3 separate regions of the Homo sapiens genome follow, and all the other regions are reported to be linked to region 2. Evidence: microRNA targets listed by miRTarBase, many of them from high-throughput screens and not tested one by one. Region 2 holds a microRNA gene; each other region holds the end of a gene's coding sequence.
The links. Region 2 holds the annotated microRNA hsa-miR-6828-5p (AGGAAGCAAGAGAACCCUGUGG, at 3,021-3,042, opposite strand). A microRNA usually pairs through its seed, bases 2 to 8, with sites in the 3' UTR of a target mRNA and lowers its output. Matches are read on the target gene's strand: a 7mer-m8 pairs with bases 2 to 8, a 7mer-A1 pairs with bases 2 to 7 and ends in A, and an 8mer does both.

Region 1 (4,196 bases), not on the chromosome of region 2:
TTGGAACTTAAAAGCCAGCTTTTAGACTATAAACAGAATATGATGTAAGAGAGGATTTCATATAGATTAAAATGGTAAGGCAGGATTATTTCTTAGTTTTGTAATGTTGGAATAATATAACATTAAAACTTTTCTTCATTATATATATTGTAAACATTTTTGCATTTTGAGTTACTTTCAAAACTTAGATATTAGTGTATGGTTGGTTGTTTTTTTTTCCCCTAGAGTGTTGAAGGAGAACATCATGAAAAAGCTGTAGAACTGCTGAAAGCCGCACAAGGAAAGGTTAAATTAGTGGTACGATACACACCCAAAGTCTTAGAAGAAATGGAGTCGCGCTTTGAAAAAATGAGATCAGCAAAACGCAGGCAACAGACCTAATACATTTCAAAACTTGATATTTCATTTTGCGTTTTAGCTAGAGAAGTTTTCCTTGTGACTTACTAATGGCTGCAATGCCAATGATTGTAAGAAAACAAACAAATTTATCATGAAATTCTCCTTGTCATTTTATAAATGCCTATTTTAACATCATTTATGGTTCCAGAGATGCATACACTTTTTTCTGACAAGAAAAAGTAAAAGGTGATGAGGGCAATTCTGTCCTACTGTTTTTACAGGCCTTTTTCAAATGCAGATTTTGTCATAAAGTTGTTATAGATTTTTTAAAATGCTTTTTTAATATTAAAATGTACTTTTACATTCTTAATCTTTTTTTAGAAAGGAAAAGTTTTCTTCATTTAGCTGCTGATTTAAAAGTAAAGTTCTCCAATTCTTTTTTTTTGCTTACTCTATTTTTTTTAACCTGTGAAATTTCTTTACAGTTTTCCAAGAAATTAAGCATAACAGTCTCATCTACGGCAGTTCATTACACTGTCAATGTTAACATCATTGCTGCATTTTGTACTTTGAACACACACATAATATATATAACCAGTGGTAAATCATGACTCAGTACAGTGCAAGTTTTTTCACTTTTACTTAAACATAATATATAATGGATATTCATTTATACTGATTTATGAAAGTAAGTTTTTAAACACTGAAACAATCATTGCTAAAATACATATTCTTAATATTTGAGCATTGAGGCAAGAGGATGTAATTGATAGCATTACTTATTACATCCCTATTTATGTTCAACCGTACATCAAATTATAAATGCAAAACAGGTTCAGATTTCATCTTTTGTGATTTCTTTTAAATACTATTCATTTTTATTTAAATGCACAGTATTTCCCCTATATTTTAGTCCTTCCATTCCTAGAGACAAACCAGTTATTTGGTGGTGGGAAGTAGCTGAAGCAAAGAAGGAAAAGTAATACCTTTAACCTCACTAGCTTCAAGAGTAGACATTCTTACTAGCTCAATTTAAATAATTGATTTTAAATAGGAAGAAAAGAGGATATATTTAAGATACATAGAAATTATGATGTGAAGTATTCATGAGAATCTGTAGATTCCATCAAAATAAGTAGGAACTCATACTAAAATTGTTGGATTTAAAGAGGCAACTTTTGTTTATGATTCAAATATGGGAATTTGAGAAATATTTCATTTGTCCACTGGATGTCACTATTTTACTAAAAGGCAGCTATTAGTGTGGGACTGTGACTGAGGTCTTAAAGACTGAAAGAGTTGGGGTTCATTTTCTGTTACAACTTACAGGAACATTTGTACTTTAAGAAAAATTTAAGTGACAAATGTTAGAAGATGATGGATTGAAAAATATAAGTAATTTGGCATATTGACCCTATATAAAAAAGTGGGCATTTTGTAACATTCCTTCAGGAAGAATAGAATTGTATGCTTTTTTCTGCATGTTTGTGATCACTGTGAGTCTCAGATGATTATTCCAGTTTTCAATGATTTTTCAAAATAAAAGTCAATCAGCATTGTTATTTATCATTAAGGTATTGAACACTGGATTGCATGGTTGAATGTGTCTTTAATCCACTACAAAATGTGCTTGTTATTGATAGGATCATGTTGTTAAATTGTAAATTTTCAAAATTAATTGATGTTTTAAAAATGTTGAGACCAAAGTAGTATAGAAGTATGGACTTAATTTAATTGTAAAATTATTAGAGGTATTTGTTGTAGAGCTTTATATATTAAAGAGAGGTATTGGTGCATATAAAAACAGTAATATTATTGTTATGCTTGTATTCTTGCATTTCAGGGTAAGTAAACCCTGAAGAAATCTTATTTTAGTATAGCTACAGCTGCAGTAGCTTTTAAGTATGTATCAACATTTCATTATAAATTATAGCTTCCTGGTTCTGTGTCTCAGCTGTTTCAGAACTTTCAGCCAAGTTAAATCTTTTTTGGTGTTGAAACTTTTAGTAAGTTGAGTAAGCTATTTTTTTCCCTACGGTAATCCACAATCTGTTCTTTGTGTGGGTTGACACCTATTTATAATTCTTAAAATAAGGGTAGCTCAAAGGAGCCAAGTACAGTAGTTTAGCTTGCTACTGTTGAGCATGAATAGCAGTAGGTTGTTTTCATTAATGCAGTTTTCATAATGTATCCCAGAATTTTAAATCTTGACCATAGAAAAATACAGTCATTCATTGGCAAAGATGTACAGTGGTGGTTTAGTGCAGTGAGGAAATGATGGGAATTTTTATCTTAGAAATGGATGATTCGTGAATAAAACTAGGTACATAGTAAGTGTATGATAGATGTTTGATTTGTAAATTACAAATATAAATTATCACCCCCATTTCCATTTATTTTCTTGATATATCAAAATGTGTTGACTTAGTGATTCTCAATCTTAGCTACATATTAGCCTGGCAGAGCTTTAAAAAATTGATACCTGGGTCCTATTCCATAACAACTAAATCAAAATCACCCTTTTTTTTTTTTTTGTAAAGCTTTCCAGGTGGTTCTAAAGGACACCTAGGGTCAATAACCCATTATAAAATGATCTGATTACACTGGACACTCTTAGGAAGTATCAAAATAGAACAGTTCAATTTGCAGCTACTTAATGATTAATTACATTTCTTAGGTTTTTTTTTTGTTTTTTTTTTGGTTTGTTTGTTTTTTGTTTTAAAAGAGACAGGATCTTGCTTTGTCTCCCAGGCTGGAACACAGTGGTGTGATCATAGCTCACTGCAGCCTGAAACTCCTTGGCTTCCACCTCAGCCTCCCAAAGCATTAGGATTATAGGCGTGAGCCACTGCACCTGGCCAAGTAATTTCTTTTAGGAATAAAAGGTACTTGGCATTCCTTATTTGGGAAGTAATTACAGTCTTATCTTTTTTTTTCTTTTTTCTTTTTTTTAATAAAATCTACCAGTAATTTAAATGTGAGCTTTTTATGTCTGTCATCATTCTGCCCCCTTTGCCTTTAAAACTTACAAAAATACGTGTTTGTTATTTGAGAAAGCATGTTTAAAAATTGCAGATGAGAAATATTGTCGTTAATAATTATGTACTGTCTTAATGTGGGCACTTCATTTGTTAGTATAATACTAGATAATAGCAGCCTAGTTCTTTAGGATTTGACGATTCAAATTTTTTTTTTGTTTTTTGTTTTTGTTTTTTTTTGAGACAGAGTCTTGCTCTGTTGCCCAGGCTGGCGTGCAGTGGTGTGATCTCGGCTCACTTCAGCCTCCGCCACCTCAAGGCAGTTCAAGCAATTCTCCTGCCTCAGCCTCCCGAGTAGCTAGGACTACAGGCGTGTGCCACCTCTCCCGGCTAATTTTTTTGTATTTTTAGTAGAGACGGGGTTTCACCGTGTTAGCCAGGATGATCTCGATCTCCTGACCTCGTGATTCGCCCGCCTCGGCCTCCCAAAGTGCTGGAATTACTGGCGTGAGCCACCATGCCCAGCCTCAAATATGTTTTTAAAAAATATCATTGTCCTCCTCCTCTTAAGATTTTTTTAAGTTATTTTGCTCAAGTACTTAAGTAGTCTGGCTCAAGTACTTTGTTTACAATTAAAATGGATATTATAGCATTTAATAGAAGAAATGGTTATGGCTTATCCAAAAAGAATGTCAGCATGACCTGGTGTAGACTTAAAAAACTACATGTTTGTGAATATTTTATAATGTGGAATGATCATTGAAATATCAAGGATTCTAGTAATTGTATTTCCTGAATAAATGTATGTTTATGAATTTTCTAACTTACATTTTGTTGTGTCCTCTGCCAACAATCTGGTTTTATAATTGTTGTCTAAAG
Region 2 (4,348 bases):
CAGTTCCCAGGCCCCCGAAACCCAGGAGGTGCCTCATCTTCTTTGGTCGAATGAGGTGTGTTTGTTCAGCCCCATTCAGTGACCCTGAGGACCTTGCACAGGCCTAGCGCTGGCTTCTCTGGGGGAGTGACAGAAACAGTCCAGAGCAACACAAAGGGAGCCTTCAGTCCCCATGCTCCTCCCACCACTGCCAACAGGGGAAACAAGGCACTTGGGGCTCCGTGGTGAGAAGACCTAGAGGAGATCAGCAGGTGCCATGCTTGAGACAATGAGCTTTACATTTCCAGAGCTAGCTCGTTCCGGTCAAAACAACATCCAGCCCAAAGGCAGTGGTGATCCACTGAGAAACAAATCCGGATAGGAGCAAAGCAGGCAGACAATATCGGAAATGCAAGGCCGTAAAAGGGCAATGAGGGGACTCTGGTGAGTGTCCGGAAATGGGCAGCCTCCTTGGGTGGGGTCAGGTCCCTCCATGTCCTGCTTCCCCCATAGTTTCACTCCAGACAGGCAAACAGGGACTGAGGCACTCACCCACTCCCCAGCCCCACCTTGCTTTCTTCCTCTGTGATGCTGCCTATCTATATCAACACACTTTTAGAAGATAAAGAAAAACAAATTCAGCTAGGAAGTTTCAAACCACCGGTTGCTTTTTCCTTCAATATCCCTGATTATTCAACTAAACAATTCTGTTGTTTTTAGGGTTGTTTAAACTACGTATACTTTGCTTTTATCCCTCTATTTTCCAGGGTTTGTATGTTTGTTTTAGTGTGTTCTCTCACTTGTGGATACCTGTGACATTCATATGGAAGGCCAGAATTTCTAAACATGAGCACTCAACACAACAGACCCACCTTTTGGCTCTGCCATCCTCAGAGCCCAAGAGAACCTTCCGGGGCTTCTGTGAGAATGTGAGGAAAGTAACAAACAGCAAGTGTCTAGGAGAAGGGTTTCACCTGGATTCTGCAAACCAAGTTTACTTGTGGAGCTTTCACTTTCCTGTTGGAAAGGGAGTCAGACAATAGACCTGACCTCCATAGAGCACTGCAAGAGGGAGCCCCTGTGAGTCAGATAAAGCACCGGATGCTGATATGTGTTCCGTGTGACGCTGGCACACAAATTCTTTGTGGCTGGAACCAAAATTTCCACATTCAGATTTTTCTCTGGAAATTAGTGGCCTTTTCACTCCTGTTAACACACACACACGCGCGCACACACACACACACACACACACACCCTTGTGGCTTCACAAGAACCTGCAAACCTCCGTCCCTTTGCAATCCTGGAAAATGGTGCCCCACCTCTCATGTCCCCTCACCTTACTGGTGTCATTATGAGTGTGAGGCCTCCAGATGGGAGGTACCCACCAAGTGGCATCAACCCACACAGAACCCTGACCCCTTATCCTTACCCCTCAAATTCATCATCTGATATGCCAATCTGGGGGTATGAATTCCTTGTTTCAGAAGAAGGTGATTTTATATCTAACCCATTACCAGACTAATTTGTTGTCACTGATATGCGCACTTTGCAACAAGAGTTGTTCTTAAAATTCATATTGTCTATTAGGATTTAGAATGTGCTAATGAAACTAGCATCTGAGGGAAAAAAACGGAGAGAAATTAAATCACTGACGAGAAGAGAGCTAGAAGGACCCTCCATAGGTTGTTAAATGAAGCCCTTTATGTGCAGGTATAATCAGCAAAACCAAATGAGCACATGCCATTTCCTGTCCCTGGACTGTCCCTCCCCTCAATTCATGACCAGCCCACCTCCTCTTCAAGTCTCAGAGCTTACTGCTGGGTTCTTCCACTCTGGAAACTCATCCAGTCTGGGTTAGGTGCCTTCCTATGTGTATGCACAGACTATATACCTTTTCTACATGAGCACATACCATATTCTATTGAGGTTTCCAAGTACACTCAAAGCAAAGACGGCCTATTTTCCCCAGTGTCCCCAGTACCTACCATGGTGTCTGGCCCACATGCTCAAGGAAGGCTTACTGAGTTAAAGGACGGAGCCATCACCTGGTGGTCTAACCACCCTCAACTCCTGACTTTTCTCTTGCCCTCTTCTTTACTTTTTTCTTTCTTTCTTTTTTCTTTTTCTTTTTCTTTTTTTTTTTTTTTGGAGTTGCACTCTGTCACCCAGGATGGAACGCAGTAGCGTGATCTCAGCTCACCGCAACCTCTGCCTCCTGGGTTCAAATCATTCTCCTGCCTTAGCAACCCCCGCCCCGAGTAGCTGGGATTACAGGCATGCACCACCATACCTGGCTAATTTTTGTATTTTTAGTAGAGATGGGGTTTCACCATGTTGGCCAGGCTGGTCTTGAACTTCCAACCTCAGGTGATCCGCCCACCTCGGCCTCCTTCTTTATTAACTGAGCTGCTCAGTCTTGCCTGCACATAAGCATCACCTGGGAAGCTTTCAAAAAATATCTTTGCCTGGCCTGATGCCCAGAAAATTCTGATTCAATTGATCTGCTGTGGGACCTGGGCATAGGTGTTCAAAAAGGATTCCACTGTGAAGACTGAGAAGGCTTCCATCTTTCAGGTCTTTCCCTTAGGTATTTCCTACCTTCAAAATCCTCTTTCTCTTTTTAAACTTATCTTCATGGTCAGTGACTCCCAGAGACATTACTTAGCCCTCTGTGTAAACTGCCCATAAAATACAAAGGGATACAGATTGTGGGAGTCCATCCCCCACTGGCTTCACTTGGCTTCCTTTCACATTTCTCTTGAACTTGAGAAGGCAGCAACCACAAGATCTGAGATTCATCAGGCTCCCTCATAGGTAGGGTACCACTGAGAAAGCTGTCTTACCCAGCAGAATGAGCAAAACACCAGCCAGCTGGGCCCGCCTGTACTTAGCCACACCGGGCTCCTGGCCCATCCGGATGCAGGGAAGAACAGTCAGCAGCAGTAAAATGGCCGGCAGACCCAGGACCGAGGCAGCAATCATCAGGGCGCGGCAGGCCTGCACGTAGCCTGGGAACAAGAGAGCAGATGGGAAAGGTTAGACCACAGGGTTCTCTTGCTTCCTGAGCCCTGCCTTAGGGGAATTCAGCACCATCTCCCTTCCTCCTTCTTGGTGGATTCCAGGACTTAGAAGGTGCTAATGTTGTCCAAGGTCACTAAGCACTTTTTAACTTTTAAAACAACTCAGCAAGAAAAAAGGGGGCTGGAGAAACTAAATGGGGACCCCTGGTTTAGGCCACTTGGCCAAGCTTCCAGGATGGAGGGGCCAAGAGTCCATTTACATTATTACATCCCCCTGAGAAAGTTCAGATGAAAACTGAAATCTCCCAAGAATCATTCTGTGAGGGCCTCTATTGGTTCCAGTCTGCTATTGATAGCTCTACCTGTGTGACCTTGGGCAAGTTACTTAACCATGATGTCTTATTTTCCACATCTATAAAGTAACAACAGGCCAGGCATGGTGGCTCACACCTCTAATCCCAGCACTTTGGGAGGCCAAGGCAGGTGGATCTTCTGAGGTCAGGAGTTCAAGATCAGCCTGGCCAACAGGGCGAAACCCCATCTCTACTAAAAATACAAAAATTAGCCTGGTGTGGTGGTGTGAGCCTGTAGTCCCAGCTACTTGGGGAGGCTGAGGCAGCAGAATCGCTTGAACCTGAGAGGGGGAGGTTGCAGTGAGCTGAGATCGAGCCACTGCACTCCAGCCCAGGTGACAGAGCGAGACTCTTTCTCAAAATAAATAAATAAATAAACAAACAAAGTATTGATAATAATATAATAGTACCTACATCTCTGTAATAGAATTCTACTGAAGATTACATTAGTTAATTTATTTAGTGCTTAAAACAGTGCCTATACCAAATCCTCAAAAAAGGTTAGTTGTTATCATTGGTGTTCTTTGTCTGTCTCAGTGCAGCGCTTTCATCTTCAGGTGTCCTAGGTGATTTTCTCCTAACCATGTGCTTTCATTCACATTGGCTGTGGCCCTAACCCAGACTAAACTAAGACTCAGGCTTCCTCTCTTTGCTGTCTCCCCAGAGGCTGCTGTCCTCATGGATCCTGCCCCTAAATTGTTGGACCCCATCTCCTGCCTCACCCACAGTGCCCTGGGCATCCTTCCCCAACTGTCCATCATTGCTTAAAAGGCATCTCTCCAGCCCTCAGGGTTCCTGGAGGGCAGACACCTGCCTTGGTATTCACGGAGTTAACACAGTGCCCACAACAGATCATGGAAACAATTGCGAATCAAGGAATAAGAGAACTGAAAAATAGAAGAGTAGAGCAAAACTACATGAACTTTATCCTGTCAAGTAAAATGCCAAGTAAAAACTGTATTAAGAAACAGATTACAATATGTGTCACATTTATTT
Region 3 (4,196 bases), not on the chromosome of region 2:
CCTTGGCCTCCCAACTAGTTGGGATTAAAGGTGTGTGCCACCACACCTGGCTAATTTTTCTATTTTTAGTAGACACGGGGTTTCGCCATGTTGCCCAGGCTGGTCTCGAACTCCTGACCTCAGGTGATCGCCCTTCTCGGCCTCCCAAAGTGCTGGGATTACAAGCATGAGCCACCACGCCTGGCCTCAGGTGTGGCTTTCAACCTGGGGGCCTGACCCGGCATGAGAGCCCTGCAGGGGACTGTCCTGCTGTTTTCTCACCTGCACAAGGTGGCCAACAATACCTGCCCACAGAAAGGAGCAACTAGTGGCTTGCCTGGCATCCAGCTGGTGCTTAATAATGGCAGCTCTTATGACTATGGAAGGCAACAGCTCCTGTGTGCAAGGAACTTGTGTGTCTTGTAGAATCAGGGCCACACGGCCAAGCAAGAGAGGCCGGAGCAGCTGGAGAGGGACACCGTCACCATCGATCTGACCTTACTTAAAATGAGACAAAACCACAAGGTATTCATGATTTGAAATTTTTATTTTCTGAAATGAAACAATTGTACATTGTACAAACCATATCTACTGATGGAATAAATAAGTGAAAAATTATACTGCTGTACAACACACCAAAAAAAAAAAAAATTCTTGAAAGGGGAAAAAATTAGGTAACGGTGAAAAAAGGTCTTTATGCCTCTAACCAGGTTCTTGGCGATAATGAACATTCCAAACCATGACACCGTTTGCTAATGGGAGGTCACCACCCTAGAGGAATCGGTCCACAGCCTTCCGGGTTGTGGGTGTAAGTGCCAGCACTTTGTGGAATGTGTAGCCGCAGCTTCCCCGACTTCACGTTTTGGGGGGAATTAGGTTTGCCCTGGGAGCCCTTGAGGCCACGGGGCCTGATGTCCACGGAAGGCTTTTGCTCGGGATCCCCCGCCCCCTGGCTCGAAGCTGAAAGGTCTTAGATTCTGTGGTGGGGGGAGGGCGAGGGGTGCAGGGTGGGTGGGGGGCAGCGGCTCGAGGAGCGACTGCGCCAGGGAAGGAAGCACATCGGATTTTTGCAGTCTTGTCATTCTGCGTGGAAGGCCTTCTTGGCCAGCGTGGAGTGCAGGGCTGCTGGCGCTTTGCCTGGCGTGGCCGTGGTGGGGCCCAGCTGGTCCCAATCGCCGGCCCATTCCTACCTTCAGGCACTTCAGAGAAATACTAGTGACAGCCTTGGGACGGTGGACGTCGTCTGAGTCCTCACCTGCGCCAACTCCCCTTGCCTGTCCAGAGAGGCTGCGGTCAACGGCAGGGCCACCTACGCCTCTCTGTTTCTGTGGATGTGTGTGTTTCATTCTCCTTCAGCTGTCTTGGTTGTAGCCTCTCGTTTCCCAAAAACAGAGAAGGAAATAAATATCCAAATTCATCTCTCACCAAGATGGAGTTTCGCTGCAAAGAAAAATGTGACTCTAACTCTACGGAATCTGGAGGTAACGCCGCCTCGAGATGCGTGGAGAGGAACCGCATCAGGTAGGTTCTGCGCCAGGATGCAGGACACAGTTCTCAACAAAACTGACTGCCTAAGGGGCAAAATTGATAAGTACAAGGATTTTTTTTTTTAAGACAGAAACCTTTCGGCATTGCTAACTTCAACATTAAGATTTTCAAAGTTGTGGTTTTTTTTTTTTCCCTTATTTCAGGAGACATTTTGCATGAGGTATTTGAAATTCAGGAACATTTTGATTCTTCTCGAAGTGCAGGAAATAGACAGGATCCCTTAAAAAAAAAAATAAGAGCCTCACCCTCAGAAACTCTTAGAAAATGGAATCCAGCAGACACTTCCCATGATGGTCAGGAGAAAGAGCCACACGTCAAAGGTGGTACCTGAATATGCACCAATTAGCCCCCAAAAACAACAAAACCCATGACCCCACCCCACCCCCAGTAACACACAACTCAAAGGGAGTCAGAACTCCAGTGCAGTAAAGAAAGCTTAGGAAAAGGTTTAAGGTCTGAGGAGTTCATATATTAATTAAGAGCAAACCAGGCCTCAGAACCAAACGATTAGGCAGTTCGTCCAAGGGGGCGTCTCCGTTCAGTGAGAGGAAGCTGTTCCAGCGAAGGTGGGGGATGGGAGGGAGGGGAGATTGCGTCTCTCCTTTCTGGAGGGTGTGCAAATCTTTCCAATTCCTCGACGCCTTGTTTGTGGCCTTCGAGGCCCGGCCATCAAGGCCCACTCCCCGGTGGGGACAGACGGCATGTTCTGGGGATGAGACACGGTCCAGCTGTTGGCTCAGAGTCAGAACAGCCTGAGAATAGGAAAGCACGTGGATTCTGACCACTGCGATCCTGCCTCTCCGGGGCACAGGCTGGGGCGTCGGGGGAGGCAAAGGGCAGCAGGTGACCGTGGATTTGAAATCCAAGCGACGTCCTATGAGAGAAAGTTCAGCACCAGCTAATCCTGCCGCCGGCTCCCAGCCTCCCCGGCCCACTCAGTGCCTTAAGGAGACAGCCTTGCAGTCAGCCAGAGAAGCCATTTCGTATTCGGAGGTCTGGGAGAAAGCAGTGATGGGGGTGGTGGTGGTGGGGGCAATAGAGAGGAAGTGCCAGAAAATTCCAAGGGCTTTGCACGTCCATCTGGGCCATGGTGGGCTTGGAGACGCCCAGTCCTAAACGCCCCAAGGAGGGGAGAGCACAGCGAGTGCCCAGCCTGATCCAAGGGGCCGAGCCCTTGGGGACTGTGCCCCAACACCTGCGCGTCCTTGGGCCCTGGTGCCTGGTGCTTGGGGCGTGCCTAAGGTCCCCCTGCACCTGCAAACCAGGTGGGCTAAGGAGCTCCTTCGCTCCACCCTGCCTGCTCCGATGAAGTCCTGGGGCAGGGAGGAGAGCGGTGAGTAGGGTGGCAGCCGCCGCCCGAACCAAACCAAGAGGGCACTTTGCAGAGGGGGATGTAAGAACCACCAGGATACATGCCAGAGGTCACCTCAAGGGCACAAGGCACAAAAAAAGAAAGCGGAAGGAATCGGTTGAACAGTGGAAAGCCCCGCCAAAAAGCGTTCCTGATCGGTACCACCCTCCGATAGCTTATATCGTTACATAGAGAAGTGGGGGGAAAATACAGCAGCAACACAAATGGAATCCTGGCTTCCGAGACAGTGTGCAGACACTCCTGAGCTGTCAGCCCCGCCTGCCTCCCCAAGGACAGTCCCTTAAAGGTTTGAGTGTTTTGCTTCACAGCAGAGTTCTTCAGTGTCTGAGAAGTGACGCCGTTCTGGGTCTTCTTGGATTTGCACTTGGTAAACTTGAAACGTTAGTAGTTCTGTTCGCACCCAAGAGGAATCGCTGGGGCAAAGTTGCTCTAGAATTAATTGCTGATGTACCTTCCATGGAACATGGATCGGAGGCTTTAAAGCATCGTCTACATCTCTTCGGAGTTTTGTTGAGAGGCCTCCAGTTTCATCTTTTTAGAGGGTGGCACTCCTTCCAAATCCTTGGGGAGAGGAGAAAAGGGGAACACAGGTTAATGGGCCAGGAGAGCAAGTTAGGCCAGGCGTGAGGCCGAAGGTCAGCCAAGGAAGGAACCGAGCGGGGGCGGCTTTGTGGTTCAGACCAGCAGTTCCAGACCCGAGGCCCAAGCGTGGACTCCAGAGAGTTTGAGGACCTATGGAGACCCTCACACCCAAACTCTTCCTGGAGCTATGGAGCGCGGTGTCCCCTGGCCCCTGCCTGACCCTATCACATGCCAATGGCTGGTAACTCGGGAGCATTTCCTACACTGCTGCCTTGGACCCTAGGCTCTCCCCACTCATTCAGACTGGACCAGAAGTTGCTGTTATCAATCTTCCCATCTATGATTCATTGCTAGGGTGATTACTTGTGATTATTGTTTCAAGTTCACCTTTCCAAGTTCTTGTTTTTGTTGTTGAGATGGAGTCTCACTCTGTTGCCAGGCTGGAGTGCAGTGGGGCAATCTTGGCTCACTGCAACCTCCGCCTCCTGGGTTCAAGTGATTCTCCTGCCTCAGCCTCCCAAGTAGCTGTGATTACAGGCACGCGCCACCATGCCCGGCTAATTTTTGTATTTTTAGTAGAGACGGGGTTTCACCATGTGGGCCAGGCTGGTCTCAAACTCCTGACCTCAGGTTATCTGCCCACCTCGGCCTCCCAGAGTGCTGGGATTACAGGTGCACACCACCATGCCTGGCTAATTTTTTGTATTTTTGGTAG

Region 1: the mRNA of LIN7C is a reported target of hsa-miR-6828-5p. Seed matches in the 3' UTR shown: 7mer-A1 at 3,141-3,147.
Region 3: miRTarBase lists BCL7A as a target of hsa-miR-6828-5p. Seed matches in the 3' UTR shown: 7mer-m8 at 1,030-1,036.

The regions. Positions count from the first base shown.
Region 1 is chr11:27,494,834-27,499,029 of GRCh38, reverse strand. It overlaps LIN7C (lin-7 cell polarity scaffold C), which reads left to right. Exons shown (of 5, transcript NM_018362.4): 5 at 226-4,196. The coding sequence ends at 381. Among named protein-coding and RNA genes, the nearest start is that of LIN7C, 9.8 kb to the left of the region's middle.
Region 2 is chr3:170,421,802-170,426,149 of GRCh38, reverse strand. It overlaps MIR6828 (microRNA 6828), which reads right to left and starts at 3,047; the gene lies at 2,988-3,047. CLDN11 (claudin 11) reads right to left here. Exons shown (of 3, transcript NM_005602.6): 2 at 2,823-2,987. RefSeq lists enhancers at 1-293, 294-795.
Region 3 is chr12:122,058,356-122,062,551 of GRCh38, reverse strand. BCL7A (BAF chromatin remodeling complex subunit BCL7A) reads right to left here. Exons shown (of 6, transcript NM_001024808.3): 6 at 508-3,460. The coding sequence ends at 3,389. Among named protein-coding and RNA genes, the nearest start is that of LINC02985, 2.8 kb to the left of the region's middle.